2 separate regions of the Homo sapiens genome follow, and region 2 is linked to region 1. Evidence: fine-mapped expression QTL. Tissue or cell type: monocytes after LPS. Region 1 holds a variant in brackets; the other region holds the start of a gene. All regions are shown on one strand. Distances are between the middles of the regions.

Region 1 (8,101 bases):
TGCTTTGGTGAATTGCGTGAGGTTGCACCAGCACTTAGTGGCAGAACCTCAGCCTCTTGGTTTTCTGTGTCTGGTTTTTGTCTTATTTTTTCCTGTCTTCTTCTTCTCTTGTGGCGAAGGCAGGAGTGTGGACATTAGAGGGACTGGGTTTGAATACCTGCTCTACCACTTATTAGCTGTGTGACCTAAATACTTGCTCTTCCACTTATTAGCTGTGAGGCCTTTCTAAGCCTGTTTCCTTATCTGTAAAATGGGAATGGTTCTAAGAATCCCTCCCTCCTAATGTTGCTATAAGGATTCAAAGAGGAAACACGTGAAAAGCACTTAAAACACTTCCAGGCACATAATAGTCACTCAGCAAATATCTATTCCTGTTGTTCTTCTGGTTGTTATTTTTCTTTTCTTTTCTTTTCTTTTTTTTTTTTTTTGAGACGGAGTCTCGCTCTGTCGACCAGGCTGGAGTGCAGTGGCGTGATCTTGGCTCACTGCGAGCTCCGCCTCCCGGGTTCACACCATTCTCCTGCCTCAGCCTCTGGAGTAGCTGGGACTACAGGCGCCTGCCACCGCGCCCGGCTAATTTTTTTGTATTTTTAATAGAGACGGGGTTTCACCATGTTAGCCAGGATGATCTCGATCTCCTGACCTCATGATCCGCCTGCCTCGCTCTCCCAAAGTGCTGGGATTACAGGTGTGAGCCACCACGCCCGGCCGGTTGTTATTTTTCTTAGCGTGCTGCTGCTGTACAGCAGGAGAGAAGTAGAGGCAACAGGAAGAGCTTCCCAGCTGGTAGAGTTAAAGAACTGGAATGGCCTCCTAATAAGTGAAGGGGTTTCTCCCCTACAAGCTTTAAGCCATCAGAGATCTGAAGGTTTTCACAAAGTCCGGAATCGGGGAGAAGGAGGGAAGAACAGAATGACTCTTTTTTTTTTTTTTTTTTTTTTTTTTGAGACATAGCCTTGATCTGTCACCCAGGCTGGAGTGCAATGGCGCCATCTTGGCTCACTGCAACCTCCGCCTCCGGGGTTCAAGCGATTCTCCTGCCTCAGCCTCCCAAGTAGCTGGGATTACAAGCGCTCGCCACCACGCCCGGCTAATTTTTGTATTTTTAGTAGAGACGGGGTTTCACCATGTTGGCCATGATGGTCTCGATCTCCTGACCTCGTGATCTGCCTGCTTGACCTACCAAAGTGCTGGGATTACAGGCGTGAGCCACCATGCCTCGCCCAAAATGACCTTTTCTTAGAGGCTTGCTCCCCACAACAACTGTCTTAGCTTTTATTCAGCAGCTGCCTGTGCTCCCAGCAGTGTGGGGTCCTCTCTTAGGAGTCAGCAACGGTACACTTTCAGGTCTGGGTCAATGGCACAGATTCCGTCTCTGCAGGGTGGGCTGTAGTAGGAGTTTTCATCATATGAATGTGTGATAGTGGGGTGGAGGTTGGGGGGCACCAACACTTATTTCTGTTGTTGCACAGGATGCCTTTCCATGCCGACAGCTCACACAACCCACTCTTCTCCCCTGCCTTCTGGGAGGGTTGTGGTGGGCACCACTGCACTTAAACTGGAGGAGAGAGATGAAATTTCTTTTTTTTTTTTTTAATTTTTTTTGAGACAGAGTCTCGCTCTGTTGCCTAGGCTGGAGTGCAGTGGCGTGATCTCAGCTCACTGCAACCTCTCCCTCCCGGGTTCAAGTGATTCTCCTGCCTCAGCCTCCTGAGTAGCTGGGATTACAGGCGCCCACCACCATGCCCAGCTAATTTTTGTATTTTTAGTCACCATGTTGGGCAGGCTGGTCTTGAACTCCTGACCTTAGGTGTTTTGCCCATCTCAGCCTCCCAAAGTGCTGGGATTACAGGCGTGAGCTACTGCACCCGGCCGAGAGATGAAATTTCTATCCCAGGGCAGAGGTTCCTGCTCAGTGAGACTGCAGCCACCCTGCTGGCTCTGCAGGAGACTCTGAGGAGAGGCAGTGGGCCCTGGAGTGTTCTGGCCAGGGGAGCCCTAGGTAGATTGCAAGACACTTGCTTTTTTTTTTTTTTTTTTTTTTTTTTTGGAGGAGTTTTACTCTTGTCGCCCAGGCTGGAGTGCAATGGTGCAGTCTTGGTTCACTGCAACCTCTGCCTCCTGGGTTCAAGCAATTCTCCTGCCTCAACCTCCTCAGTAGCTTGGATTACAGGTGCCTACCATCCATGCCCTGCTAATTTTTTTAATTTTTTTTTTTATTGTTAGTAGAGGTGGAGTTTCACCATGTTGGCTAGGCTGGTCTTGAACTCCTGACCTCAGGTGATTCGCCCGCTGCCTCAGCCTCCCAGAGTGCTGGGATTACAGGCACGAGCCACCATGCTCGGCCTCAAGACTCTTGGTTTCTAAAACTAGTGCTCACTTTTCCTGCTCTGGGCTTGGGGTTTACCATCCTTCAAATGAAGGGACCAGCAGAACAGCCTCTCGAGAGGGCAGTTTGGCGATGAGTTATTTAGGGAGGCGGAATGTGGAATTCCCTATGGCCCGACAATTCCAACGCTGTGTGAGAGCCCCAGAGAGGTTCTCACATGGGAACACAAGAAGTGCACGGGCTGTTTGCTGCAGCACCGTTTGTAACAGCGAGGAACTATGAGACCTAATTGGTCCTTTAGAGGAGATTAGAAAAATAAAATGAGGTATATCACACAACCAAATAGTATGCAGCAGTCAAAAGGAACAAGCCAAATCTACAAATACTAATGTGGATTCATCTCAAAAAACAATACTAAAGGGGAAAGTAAGAAGCAGAATATGCTGTCCCCATGGTGACATTCCGTAATGTTTGAAATACATACATACGAGTATGTAACACTCATGCATACATACAGATGGGGAAAAGCTTTAGAAAGCAGATTGGGAGGCCAGGTGTGGTGGCTCACGCCTGTAATCCCAAAACTGTGGGAGGCCAAGGCGGGCAGATCACCTGAGGTCAGGAGTTCGAGACCGGCCTGGTCAACATGGTGAAACACATCTCTACTAAAAATAGAAAAATTAGCTGGGCGTGGTGGCCAGCGCCTATAATCCCAGGTACTCGGGAGGCTGAAGCAGGAGAATCACTTGAACCTGGGAGGCGGAGGTTACAGTGAGCCGAGATCTCGCTACTGTACTCCAGAATGAGACTCCATCTCAAAAAAAAAAAAAGAAAAGAAAGAAAAGAAAAAAAATGAAAGTAGTTTGGGAAATGTGCAAATTCAAAGTAGACCCCTGGAGGAGAGGAATAGAATGGGGTTTGGGGACTAATGATAGACTGTGCCCAGACTGGGGGGAGATGCCATGTGGGGTAGCACTGTACCACCAGTCCTATGATAGCCTACCATGTGCACCTTAGGTTAAAACAAAGTCAAGATGGTTTGGATCCAGGTGATCCCACGGGATCTTCTGACACTGCCATGTTGGTTTCTCTGGGACCTGGATAGCACAGCCACAGCTGGAACCAAAACAATGGGCTCCAGAGTGAGGACCTCGGAGAGTAGCAGAGCCTGAAAGGAAACCTGTAGCCAAGGCAAAGGTGCAAGCACCATAAGACGTGGAGATAGTAAACCAGATGCAGAGAAAGTCACCATCTATTTTTTTTTTTTTTTTTTGAGACAGAGTCTCGCTCTGTCGCCCAGGCTGGAGTGCAGTGGCACGATCTTGGCTCACTGCAACCTCCGCCTCCCAGGTTCAAGCGATTCTCCTGCCTCAGCCTCCCAAGTAGCTGGGACTACAGGCACCCGCCACCACACCCAGCTAATTTTTGTATTTTTAGTAGAGGCGGGGTTTCACCATGTTGGCCAGGCTGGTCTCGAGCTCCTGACCTCGTGATCCGCCCACCTCGGCCTCCCAAAGTTCTGGGATTACAGGCGTGAGCCACAGTGCCCGGCCACCTTCTATTAAAATCATCATTTTACATGATCTGATTGTGATTTTCTGCCCTTGTCCAACACTGTTTTGTTAGTAATCAGGCAGCTTTCCCCCCTTGATCTGTCTGCCTTATCATCTACCACTGTATTTGATTTTCTGAGTTTTGGGATCTGTCAGGAACAAACAATATTGTGTGTGAGGCTGGGGCAGGGGAGGGACACGGCTGAGGTCAGAGCCTCTGGATTTGCTTGTTCCTCGGCACCCAGTGCTGATGGGAATTTGCAGGAATGCAGACACAAAGAGCCCATCCTGCAGAGAGTTTTAGATTTTCACCCAGTTTCTAATTTTAATTTGGTCTAAGTGTAACTTCAAGACAACTGGGCTTGCTTGGGGCCAATCTCAAGTCTTGACAGCAAACAAGCGCAAAACGCAGGTCCAACTGCCAAAGCTTTGTGAGCGAGATAAATTGTTGCTGACATTTTCGGGGGCAGATAGGAGGGCTCCACAGCAGAACCTATTGGGCAGCCTGATTAAGCTCTTTCCTCATAATTCCTCTCCTTACGGCAGCTGC[TAG/G]ATTTCTCCTTGCCTCTACCCAACCACCCCTCAGCCTCTCCAGATCCCCTCTCCAAAATCCCATCTACCAGCACACCCCATTCAATAAGGCTAAAGCAAGCTAAACAGCAACTGAGAAAACGCAATCCAGGCTTGGGCCTCAACTTATTTCAGCATCTCAAATAAAAAGCTGGGCCAGGCGTGGTGGCTCACGCCTGTAATCCCAACACTTTGGGAGGCTGAGGCGGGTAGATCACTTGAGGTCAGGAGTTCGAGACCAGCCTGGCCAACATGGTGAAACCCCATCTCTACTAAAAATACAAAAATTAGCTGGGTATGGTGGCTTGTGCCTGTAATCTCAGCTACTCAGGAGGCTGAGGCCGGAGAATTGCTTGAACCTGAGAGGCGGAGGTTGCAGTGAGCTGAGATGGGGCCACTGTACTCCAGCCTGGGTGACAGAGCGAGACTCTGTCTCAAATTAAAAAATAAAAAATAAATAAATAAATAATCTGATGAGGTCCAGTTCAACAGATTCTGCAGATGTCTCCAGACATGTTTTGAAAACACAGCGGAAACACGCACATGTATGTTTTCTAGATTTTGCCGCCCACTGTGGTGAGAATAAAGGGGGAATGCAGTCTCATGTAAAGACAGAACATTTTGCTTGGTCTGCTCCGTGGGGGGTCTGTCTTGGGTAGGGGGGTCCTTACACATGGGGGTCTGGGGCTCACCTAAAAGGTCACGTGTTAACCTTAAGGGAATCTTCCTGCCCCTGCAGGAAATCACACATAAGACGGTGGTGGCCAGTGCCTTCTTTACAGCATCTGCCTTGAGGGTGAAGCCACAGCTGTCAACGTAACTGCTGAGAATGGACTCACCAGAGGGGATTAAGACAGGCAGGTCCTAGCCCTTCTTGGGGTCGAAGGTAGAAGCACACACTAGATTGGCTGGGCACGGTGGCTCACACCTGTAATCCCAGCATTTTGGGAGGCCGAGGCAGGCAGATCACTTGAGGTCAGGAGTTCAAGACCAACCTGGCCCAACATGGTGAAACCCTGTCTCTACTAAAAATACAAACATTAGCTGGGTGTCTAGTCCCAGCTACTCAAGAGGCTGGGGCAGAAGAATCGCTTGAACCCCAGATGTGGAGGTTGCAGTGAGCTGCGATTGTGCCCCTGCACTCCAGCCTGGGTGACAGAGTGGGACTCCATCTCAAAAAAAAAAAAAAAAAAAAGAGCACACACTAGATAAGCCACAGCCACCAGCAGGGAAAAGGAAAAGGTGGAGGAAGAGGAAGAGGATGGGAAGAGGAGGAGGAAGGGGAAGAGAAGGGGAGGAGGAAGAGGAAGAGGAGGAGGAGGGTAGGAGAAGGAGGAAGAGGAGGAGGGGAGAAAGAAGAGGAGAAGGAGGAAGAGGCAGAAGGGAGGAGGAGGAAGAGGAGGAGGAGGAAGGGGAAGAGGAAGGGAGAGGAGGAAGAGGAGGGGGAGGGGAGGAGGAAGAGGAAGAGGAGGAAGAGGGAAGGAGGAAGAGGAGGGAAGGAGGGAGGGAGAAGGAGGAAGAGGAGGGAAGGAGGATGAGGAGAAGGAGGAAGAGGGGAGGAGGATGAGGAAGAGGAGGAGGGGAGGAGGAGGGGAGAAGGAGGAAGAGGAGGAGGAGGAGGAGGAAGAGGAGGAGGGGAGAAAGAAGAGGAGAAGGAGGAAGAGGAAGGGAGAAGGAGGAGGAAGAGGAGGAGGGGAGAACAAAGAGAAGGAGGAGGAAGAGGAGGAGGAGGAAGAGGGGGAGGAGGAGGAGAAGGAAGAGGAGGAGGAGGGGAGAAAGAAGAGAAGGAGGAAGAGGCAGAAGAAGGGAGAAGGAGGAGGAAGAGGAGGAGGAGGGGAGAAGGAAGAGGAGAAGGAGGAAGGGGAAGAGGAAGGGAGAGGAGGAGGAAGAGGAGGGGGAGGGGAGGAGGAAGAGGAGGGGGAGGGGAGGAGGAAGAGGAGGAAGGGGGGAGGAGGAGGAGAAGGAGGAAGAGGAGGGAAGGAGGGGGGAGAAGGAGAAGGAGGAAGAGGAAGGGAGAAGGAGGAGGAAGAGGAGGAGGAGGGGAGAATGAAGAGGAGAAGGAGGAAGAGGAAGGGAGAAGGAGGAGGAAGAGGAGGAGGAGGGGAGAATGAAGAGAAGGAGGAAGAAGAGGGGAGGAGGAAGAGGAGGAAGAGGGGAGGAGGAGGAAAAGGAGGAAGAGGAGAGAAGGAGGATGAGAAGGAGGAAGAGGAGGGGCGGAGGAGGAGGAAGAGGAGAAGAAAGAGGAGGAGGAAAAGGAGGGGAGGAGGAGGAAGAAGAAGAGGAAGAAGACAAGGAGGAGGAAGAGGAGGAGAAGGAGGAGAATGAGAAAGGAGGAGGAAGAGGAGGAGAAGGAGGACAATGAGAAGGAGGAGGAGAAGGAGGAGGAGGAAGAGGAGGAGAAGAGAGAGAATGAGAAGGAGGATAATGAGAGGAGGAGGAAGAGGAGGAGGGGAGGAGGAGGAGGAGGAGGACTACGAGGAAGAGGAGAAGGAGGAGGAAGAGGAGAAGGAGAAGGAAGAGAATGAGGAGGAGGAAGAGGAGGAGGAGGAAGAGGAGGAGGAAGAGGAGGAGAAGGAAGAGGAGGAGGAGGACGAGGAGAAGAGTAGTTCTGGATGGAAGGGCATGTTCCACTCAGTGTTCTGGATGCTGGGTGGAATTGGGGGCATCCTGGGGCAAGGAGGAGACGGTGACAAGAAACCAGCTACTCTCAGAACAATTCTGTAAGACTCCAAGGAAGAGCAACTGTGTCTGGGACTACTTTTATGATTAGGGGTGGTTCCCATGGCAGTGGACAGCAACCATGACACTTTAAAGCATAGGAACCAGAAAGGAGGGGGTGAAGAAGGGTACATAGGCTGGGAAATACATCAGGAAGGGGTGCTTCCAGTGGTCCAGGTGAGACATAGTGATGTGATATTGGCCAGGGAGTGAGACTCAAGGACAAAAGGGGCTGTGGAAATTTACAAGTGGGAGTGAACACTCCTAGCTGGATGTTTGTGTTTGGCCTGGGAGGATGGCCCCACTTGCTTGTCCATGTTCATGTCATCCTCTTGGCTTTGGCCCATGGTTCCAGTTTGTCAAGGCCATGGTGATTGGGTTTGGCCCGTGGTCCCAGCTTGTCAAGGCCATGGTGAACAGCCGTGCATCTGTCCAGTCTGCATGAGCAGCGTCCTTCTTACACAGCTTATTCTCTGTTGTGAGCACTTGCGCTGAGATGCTTGACATGGCTCAAGTCCTGGAGGGAGGTGGAGGCTCCCTCCACTGGAGCCCATCAGGGAGTGGACCGGGGTAAGCCACTTGACCAGGCTATCTTCTTGCTCCTGACTCCCTTTGTTGTTTACAAAGTTACTGTCAGAGAGCTGGGCAGCAGCCGTGCCCCAACCCAGGCCCAGAAGGCAAGGCGATGCCCAACTCCACTAGTCGTTATAACCGTGTCCAAATAGGAAATGAGCTTTGCCTGGCATGACTAGCTTTCAGGGGGGCCATGTTGGCTCCTAGGAACTGTCACTTAGCTTTCCAAGTGCTCACACCAGCTGTCCAGGCTGGATAGCCAGGCCTGGGGTCTGCCATGTCGAGGAGTTGTCTTGCAGCCAGCTCCCACTCCTTACCCACCTGGAGCTCTCCAACCTGTCCACATCTCTGCACACGT
Region 2 (8,101 bases), 78 kb before region 1:
TGATAGCCAGAAATTTGGCTGTCCTTATCCACAGTATATTTGCTTGTCCAATCCTAGAGTATATCTAATTTCAGAATTGGTATATCCCTGTGGACAACAAGAGTACAATGTATGCGCATAGTCCTCTTTCACACTCACTTTTAAATGAAAGTTGTCTTTTTATCCCTATTGAAGGAAAAATGAGTAACTATCAATTAAACACATAATTACTAAAATATGTTCATGTTCTTCACGTTGGAAACCGCTAGAAGGGAATAGCATGGTTTGTCCCTAAATTTTCACTCTGCTTACCAGTTACTGTGTTGTGTGGTCTTGAGCAAGTTAATTTAATCTTTCTGAACTTAAACCTTCTCATTTTCGAAAATATTGAACACTGACCTTTGATGACTAATCGGGGAAAAAACCCTATGCTACCAGAGTGTACTAAGTTACTGTTATAGAAATGGTAGGCTACAAGATCGTTTTTAAGAGAATAACTGAATTATACCTTGGCATTATTTACCTAAATTATGTTGTTCATTCACTTACAAACTTAAACCCAGGTACCCTCAGTGTTTACACATGTTAGAGCTGCTCCAATATGAACACTTCCGAAAGGAGCTGGTGAATGCTCAGTGTGCGAAATTTATTGATGAACAGCAGATTCTACATTGGCAGCACTATTCCCGGAAGCGGATGCGCCTTCAGCAAGCCTTGGCAGAGCAGCAACAGCAAAATAACACATCGGGAAAATGAAAAACTGGATACAAACGAGGCACTTAATACATGTATATAATGTATTTCTTTTGTACAGTGAAGACAAAAAAAATGAAAACTCTTCCTATCTACCTTTATTATGGTAGCCCCTAGAACCTTTAGTGTGCTTTTTCATCCAACTTTTTATTGTTAATAGACTATTTCTGTTAAACCTGAATTGTTCTTTGATTTCCCTGTGGATTTGTAAGGTGTTTTTCTTTTTTACGCATTTAGCATAATCAGCTGATTAAGAATGGAAAAGTTAGGTGCTTTAGACCAAATAAGGCACTGGGGCATGGGGTAGGGGTGGGCCACCAAGTATACTGAATTCTAAGGCTAGCTGTTCCTGACATATAGTAGGGCAAGACCATCTCCTGGAACCTTACTGTCTCAGATCAACTACTCTACCACTCTACTCTAAGATGTAGTGAGAGTAGCGGAGTCACTGACCTCTTTAAATCATAGGACAGGAACTGCATAAAGGTTCTTGAATTCTGCAGGACAGGAAATAACTGTATTACCTGCTTTGCAAGGTGGCTTTAAGAATCACTGAATCACTGTGGCCTCACTTGACCTAGTCATGGCAGGACAACTAGTGGTTAGTTACTAACTGGACTCTTGACTTTAGAACAAACATGAGGAGCCTCAAATACTTGTGTTCATTTGGGAAAGCTACCATTGATTTGGGAGGTACCACAAACCAGGTGCTATGTTAAGTGCTTCCTTGAATTCTCATTTTATTCTAAGAACCTTGTTTATAGAAGAGAAAACTGAGGTTTGGACGGGGTGAGTAACTTGCCTGTGGTTACACAGCTAGTAAGTGGTAGAGTCAGTGTGACTGACTCCCAGCTTGGAGTTCTTCCCAGAACTGGGTTATAGAGTCTTTCCGGCCGCTCTCCGCCACCTGCCTCATCCCAAGTAAAGCACATTGAGACAGCTGCAAAACAAACTGCTTCTAGTGCTCAGGAGTCTGTTTTTTATTAAACAAAACAAAACTGCCTGAATTAAGCAGAGGCTAGATTAGAGGTCATGTGCTTTCCTTCAGTGGTGAGGTTAGGTTCTACATTCCAAAATCAAAGAAGGGGTTTCAGGAATATCATCAGTTGCTTTGCAGATGGAGATAACTTAAAATAAAAGATACTGATCTTTTGAGAGATTTGGAAGGTGTGCTCTGCACCTTTAGGAGTTTTTAGGTATTTCCGTCACCTTCAAGAATACGTTCCTTTGAGCCTTTACTGCTATTTCTGAAGACTTCTTTATATCTTAAAAATATCCATGTATTACAGGCAAACTAAAGGTTCATGGGCATTTTAATAGCACTCTATTGTTTAGACACATGCCAGTTTTTTTAACATCATTTATTGCTAACATGAATTCAAAGCAAGTATACAGTTTATTGATACTAGAACAAATCAGGACATCAAGACATGATTGCCATCCTAAAATCTTAATCTTCAGAGAACAACATTTCCACCAGGTTGGCCTGAAGACACTCAGATTCTACCAGTTTTTGAGGCTGTAAGAGAAAAACAGTCAAATCTTCACTACTTCTATAAAACGTTATTAGGAGTGGAATGAGTTCTGCCTTGAATGACACTCATCTTTGAACACAGAAATTACGCAATTCAGAAACTATCATCTAGTTATAACAAGTTTTATGAAAGAATCAATATATTTGCTGTAAGATGAATCACTAACATACTTGGCTCAAGAGACTTAAACCCCAAATACCAGGAAGCTCCACAGACTAAAACAGGAGACAGCAAGCCCAGTGCCCTCTTCTTCCCCTCAACTCTTTAATTTAGGATCCCAGGGGCATGACTGAACTAGAAGAGATGCCCTTACTTTTTAACCAGAATTATGAATTAAACAGAAAACAACTGTTGATGCAAATGTTTTAAGGAATTATGAGTCAACCTACTTTCTGGTTTTTTAAGAGTGACTTAACATGAAAAAGACCTAATAGCTAGATATTTACATTATCAGTTTATTGGGATTGGCCATAGGAATGGACTTTCAGCAGCACTCTGAACAACAATGGAATTGAGATGAAATGTCAAGATCTTTTCAAATCTGGATCCACAGCAAGTTAAAAGAGTTCTGACAGTGAATTACAGGCCCAGCATATTTAAAGATACTTACTGTTCCATACTTAAGTAGTGTAGGCACTGCTGTTACTTTCAAGTTTTTTCTGAAGTCATTATTTGGATCTTTCCAACTATTCGAAAAGAAAAAGTGATCATGAAAAAAATTTACTTGGTTTATTACAGTTTGCTTAATATTTGACATAGTCCTACATTTAATTTTTTAGTAATCACTGTTCTTGCAAACACTTAAAAAACCTTGCGGACTATGGCTTAATCTACTAATTACCCTGTGCAAAGTTTCAAAGTGTGACTAAGATATAAAAGTAAAGCCAGCTAAGTTCTGGGCTTACACCAGACCAAATTCGTTGAATTACCCTTACTTAATTCAGGTGGGCATTTTAAATTTGTATTTAATAGCTTCTAATTGTTTAACTTGTCAGACATTACCTTGTAAGACAAACTGGGTAAGTAAGTCCCTGAGGCCCTTCCCGCCTAAGTATGCAATTTGTGCACGTCTGCGAGGTAGATTATACATTGCCACTTACTAAGGCTTTTCTCCTACTTGGCAGTAGATGAACACACATCCTTCACTAATGTGCTTCAGCCCCTCTCGTACGACTGGTTCAGCTTTAAAAAAAGTTGAGATAAAATAATCGCACGTCAACTCTACAATCAGGCACGTATAAACTGTGTTCTTTCCCCCTTCCCCCAGTCTTGGTAAGCACTCAGACTTTAACCTGCAGCTAACTGAAGAGGTCAACACAAGTCAGGTGTTCCCTTCTGGTCTTAGAGCCACGTTAAGGGTAAGGACCAAATCCCAGTCCCGATTTGCCCCTGCACCACCGCGCCCGTAACAATGGAAAGCACATGTATTTGCTGACCAACTCACGTATCCTGTAAGACACTAATGGTACTGGGGGAGTGAGAAGTTTTAAGGAACTAGATTCCAAGATCATCCGGGTAAGGTGGTAAAAGGAAGAGCGCTCTTGGCAGGGCGGGGTAGGATTTAATAGAAGGAGACTTGGGGACAGCTCAGATTGCTCCGCGGATGTCTGGAACCAAGACTCTGCCTCCGCTAAGCCCCCCTTCTGGCCGTAGGCTCGACCTTCCTGCCATTTCCATTGGACAGCAGCCCCCGAATCCCGGCCTCACCCTGCACGCAGTCGGGGCACCAGCTTTTCCCCCCGGCGTCCTTAGAACCCGTAAAGTAGGCGAAAATGGTCTTGCCATTGTGCTGTTCCACGGCCCGGTGGAACTCCTCGAAGCCGGACACGCTCACCTCCTCATAGCGGGCCATTGGCACGACGTGCAGCCGCTACTGGAGGAGTGCACGTCCGGTCGCCGCGGTTGGGTCCCGCGTAGGCGGGGCGAGGCTGTTTCCGGGTGGGCAAGAGAGGGCGGAGCCTGCGGAAGCCAGCGCCGCTAAAGACTACGGGAGCCTCTGACGACCACAATCCATCCGCATGGCTTTTTGCTCTAGTTCCTCAGATCTTTCTGCGCTAGCTGCACTCCCAAGCCCAGGCTTAGATCTACCCTAATCTAGTCCCAGCCCCGACCTCATGGACACTGGCTGCAAAACTTACCGCCTTGCAACACCTGGATCCTTAAATAGTTCAGGGCCTCAAAGGCTCCCAAGCCGCCCTGCGCCTGTTGCTATGGCGACTGGGCAGGCGGCCGGAAGCGCGGCCTTGTTGGGGGCCCCCGTTGCCCGCCTCCCAGTAGCCGCGCCTCACCCTAGGCCAGGTGGGCTCGGGCCGGGGCTGGGGGGGATTCTGGGAAGCCGCATAGAGTCATGGACTTGGGGGAGAGGAGATCTGACTCGGAAAGCCTTTGTTGCTTTGTCCCCCCAGTTACCTTTTCTGCCGTCTAGGCTTTACGGGGGCCTGGGACTGGGGGCGGGTTCCCGAGACTGGGCGGGGGTGGGATGGGTGAGGGGCTCGGAGGGAGAAAGGCTGCAAGGCCGGAGCGGAGTGTGTGAGTGCGTGTGTGGAGCAGCTTAGGGAGCGAGGTGCTAAGACATCCCCCAGGGCCGCGGTAGGGAGGAAGGGAACTGCCCTGGAGCTATGAGCCGGGAGACTCGCCGTGGGGCCTTGCCCAGGCTGCGCCGGGGAGAGCAGGCGGCTAAGATGCCGGGTCGCTGCGTGGGGCCCAGCAGGTCGGGGCGGGGGGTTCGGCGGCCGTGGGGGAAGAGACGGGGCGCAGGGACGTCCCGAGGCCGTGGAGCAAGGCGCCGGGCGAAGCCCTCGGAGTGGGAGACGCGCTGTGTGAGTGCAGAAAGGCCACAGGGCCGTCAGCGGCCATGGGGGACGAGACAAGCGGCGGAGACAGCCGACGCCGCCGGGGCGAATGAGGCTTTGGGAGCTCCTGGGACCCCAGGCTCCATCGAGGCTGCAAGGGACCCTGGGGCTGTGTGGGTGAACGGGGCTGTGGGGGAGCCCGAGGTGGTGGGGCTTGCCGGGGCTGTGTGGGTGACCGGGTCTGGGGAGGAGGAGACCGAAGATAGAAGTCCCCGGGGCTGCGAGAGAAAAGGTCGCCCGGGATCTCTGGGCCATGAGAGCATTCTGCACCTGTGGCTGAAGGTGCAGGCTATGAGGGCCGCCTCGGGATGTGGGGAAGGAAGTAGAGTCGAGCTCCATCCCGTGCCTGCAGGAGAGGGACCTGTCGAAAGGGGTGTTCCTGGCCGAGCTTCCTGGGTAGAGACAAGCCGCGGCGGTCTTACAGGGCCCTGGGTGAAGGAACAGGCAAGGGGGATCCCTCGGGCCCCCTCAGGGCCCACAGCTCTGGGCTTAGGGGCAGCTTACGAGAGAGCCTTAGGCTTCTGTGGACAGGGACAGGCTGGGAGGGTGCCTCCTGCGAGTGTGCCTGGGGCTTTGGCGTCAAGTTCTGAAATGGCCCCGCACCTGTGGAGGGGAGAAGCTGTGGGGGTTCCTGAGACTGGGGAGGAGATAGGCTATGGGTTTGTCTCAGGCCCTTGTGAAAAAGAACAGACTATGGGCGAGCCTGGGACCGTGGGGTGGACTGGGGCTGTGGGAGCGCCCAGAGCCATGGAGGGAGAGCTCGGCTGTGGCGGTGCTGCAGGTCTGTGGGGGAGAGGACAGTCCCCGCAGATTCCTGGGGCTCTGACACATGAAGCAGTCTGTGGGGCCACCCCTGGCGTATGGGGGAGGGGACAGGCTGTGGGGGTGTCCGATGCTGTGGAGGAGGAGCCTACTTCTGTGGGTGCCGCAGGTGTGTGTTACAGGAGACAGGCTGTGGAGGAGACAGACTCTGTGGGTATGCCCGGCCCGTGGGGCACAGGATACTCTGTTGGGGTGCCCTGTGCTGCTGAAGAGGAAACTAGATGTGGAGGTGACCCAGGGTTCAGGGAAAGGGGACAGCCTGTGTGGGTGGAGACAGGCTCTGGGGGTGATCCAGGGTCACGGGGAGCTGCGCAGACTGCAGAGTCATCATGTCCTGGGGAGCAGGCAGCAGGTTCTGGGGGTGCCCCAGGCCTGTGGGGGATACAACAGGCTACAGGGGTACCCAGGGCCTTGGGGAAGGACACGGGCTGTGTGAGTGTCCCAGGGCTGTGGGGAGCGGGACAGATGGTAAGGGTGCCCCAGGCTGTGGTGGTACCTGGAGCCCTGGGAGAAGAGCTGAGCCACAGCGGGGGCCTGGGCCTGTGGGACGGACAGCAAGCTCTTGGGGGGCCCCCAGCCGAGGCAGTGCCTGGGCTTGGAGAGGAGACCTGTAGTGGGAATGTTCTGAGCCCGTGGGAAAGGAGGCAGGCTGTGGGGGAGCCAGAGAGTCTGGGGCCTCCAGCTTTAGGGGTCCCTGGGTCAGTGGATCAGGAGGCTGGCTGTGGAGATGTTGCATGTCAGTGTGGGAGGAGGCAGGCTGTGGGGGTGTCTGAGACGGTGGGCATACCCAGGGCAGCAGATGTGCCCCGGCAGGGGTGTGCCGCAGCAGGGGTCCTCATGGCAATGGGTGTGCCCGGCTCTGGAAAGGTGCCTGCCAGAGTGCCTGCTGCTGTGTGGGCGTCTGGTCCTGTGTGTCAGGAAGGCAGCTCTAGAGACATTTTGAACCTGTGGGAAAGGACTCGGGCTGCCAGAATATCTGTGGCTTCGGGGGGACCCGTGGCTCGGGAGGAGCTGTGGTCTGGCGGGGAGGAATCCGTGGCTTCAGGGGGACCCGTGGCTCAGGAGGAGCTGTGGTCAGGCGGGGAGGAATCCGTGGCTTCAGGGGGACACGTGGCTCGGGAGAAGCTGTGGTCTGGCGGGGAGGATTGTGGTTCTGGGGCCTTCCCGGGCCCATGGGGGAGGAGACAGACTATTGGGGTTCCTGTGGTGCCTGAGGGGCCTGGGCTTGGGGGGGAGACTGACTCTGGGGGTATCCCAAGACCCTGGGGACAGAGACAGAGGGTCAGGGCTCCTGTGGCCACCGAAGTCCTTCTGGCTCCTAGGGTGCCTGGTTCTGTGGAGCTGGAGCCTGGTGATGGAGGCTTTTCAGGCTTGTCAGGGAGGCAGCAAACTGCAGGAATGCCTGGCACTGTGGGGCTGTCTGCAGCTAGTGGGGTGCCCGTGGCTCCCAGGGTGCCTAGGCCTGTGCAAGAGGAAACTGGCTCAGAATTGTGGGGTGAAAGAGAGACAGTGGGCGGACCTGCAGATGCCAAGGGTCCCACAAGGATGGAGGTGCCCACCTCGACCAGGATGCCTGGGCCCATGGCGGAGAAGACTGGCTCTGGGGGTGTCTCAGGTTTGTTGGGAGGCAGACAGACTACAGGAGTGTCCATGGCTGTGGGGCTGCTGGGGTCTGTGGGGGAGGGGACCATCTTTGAGCATGTCTCTGGCCTGTCTGGAAGAAGGCAGACTGCTGGGAGGCCTGTGGCTGCTAGAGGTTCCATGGCCGTGGGAGTGCCCACAGCTCCCGGGCTTCCAGGGCCAATGGTAGGGGATACGGGCTCTGGGGATGACGGCTCAGGCATATGGGGAAGGAGACTGGCCACTGAGGGGCCCACAGCTGCCAGGGTTCCTGGACCTGTGGAGGGGGAGACAGGCTCTGAAGGTGTCTCAGGCCTGTGGAGAAGGAGACACGGTGGAGCCATTCCCGAGGCCGGGAGGGTGCCTCTGCCTCTGGGGGTGCTTGCAGCTGTAGGAGCTCCCATGGCAGGGCGTGCGCCTGCTGCGGTGTGGGTGACTGGGTCCTCAGGAGCAGAAGCGGACGTGGGTGTCTCAGGTCTGACCGTGCTGAGGAGACAGTCCACAGGGGGAGTGGGGGCTTCAGAGGATGAGACAGGAGGT

What was found. PIP is the estimated chance that this variant, and not a neighbour inherited with it, causes the effect.
Region 2: TXNDC17 starts here. The variant in region 1 is fine-mapped to the expression of TXNDC17 in monocytes after LPS (Quach 2016, PIP 0.95).

What each region holds. Positions count from the first base shown.
Region 1 is chr17:6,559,456-6,567,556 of GRCh38, reverse strand. No RefSeq gene overlaps it. Among named protein-coding and RNA genes, the nearest start is that of PITPNM3, 7.0 kb to the right of the region's middle. The variant TAG/G (reference allele first, on the strand shown) is at 4,433.
Region 2 is chr17:6,637,101-6,645,201 of GRCh38, reverse strand. TXNDC17 (thioredoxin domain containing 17) reads right to left here and starts at 4,142. Exons shown (of 4, transcript NM_032731.4): 1 at 3,975-4,142; 2 at 3,368-3,449; 3 at 2,878-2,953; 4 at 661-2,251. The coding sequence starts at 4,119. The coding sequence ends at 2,183. It overlaps KIAA0753, which reads left to right and starts at 4,491. Exons shown (of 19, transcript NM_014804.3): 1 at 4,491-4,565. MED31 (mediator complex subunit 31) reads left to right here. Exons shown (of 4, transcript NM_016060.3): 4 at 543-1,891. The coding sequence ends at 735. LOC122526780 reads left to right here and starts at 4,886. Exons shown (of 1, transcript NM_001396008.1): 1 at 4,886-8,101. The coding sequence starts at 4,886. RefSeq lists enhancers at 3,423-3,482, 3,683-3,952, 4,083-4,964, 5,863-5,932, 6,877-7,658 and 1 more.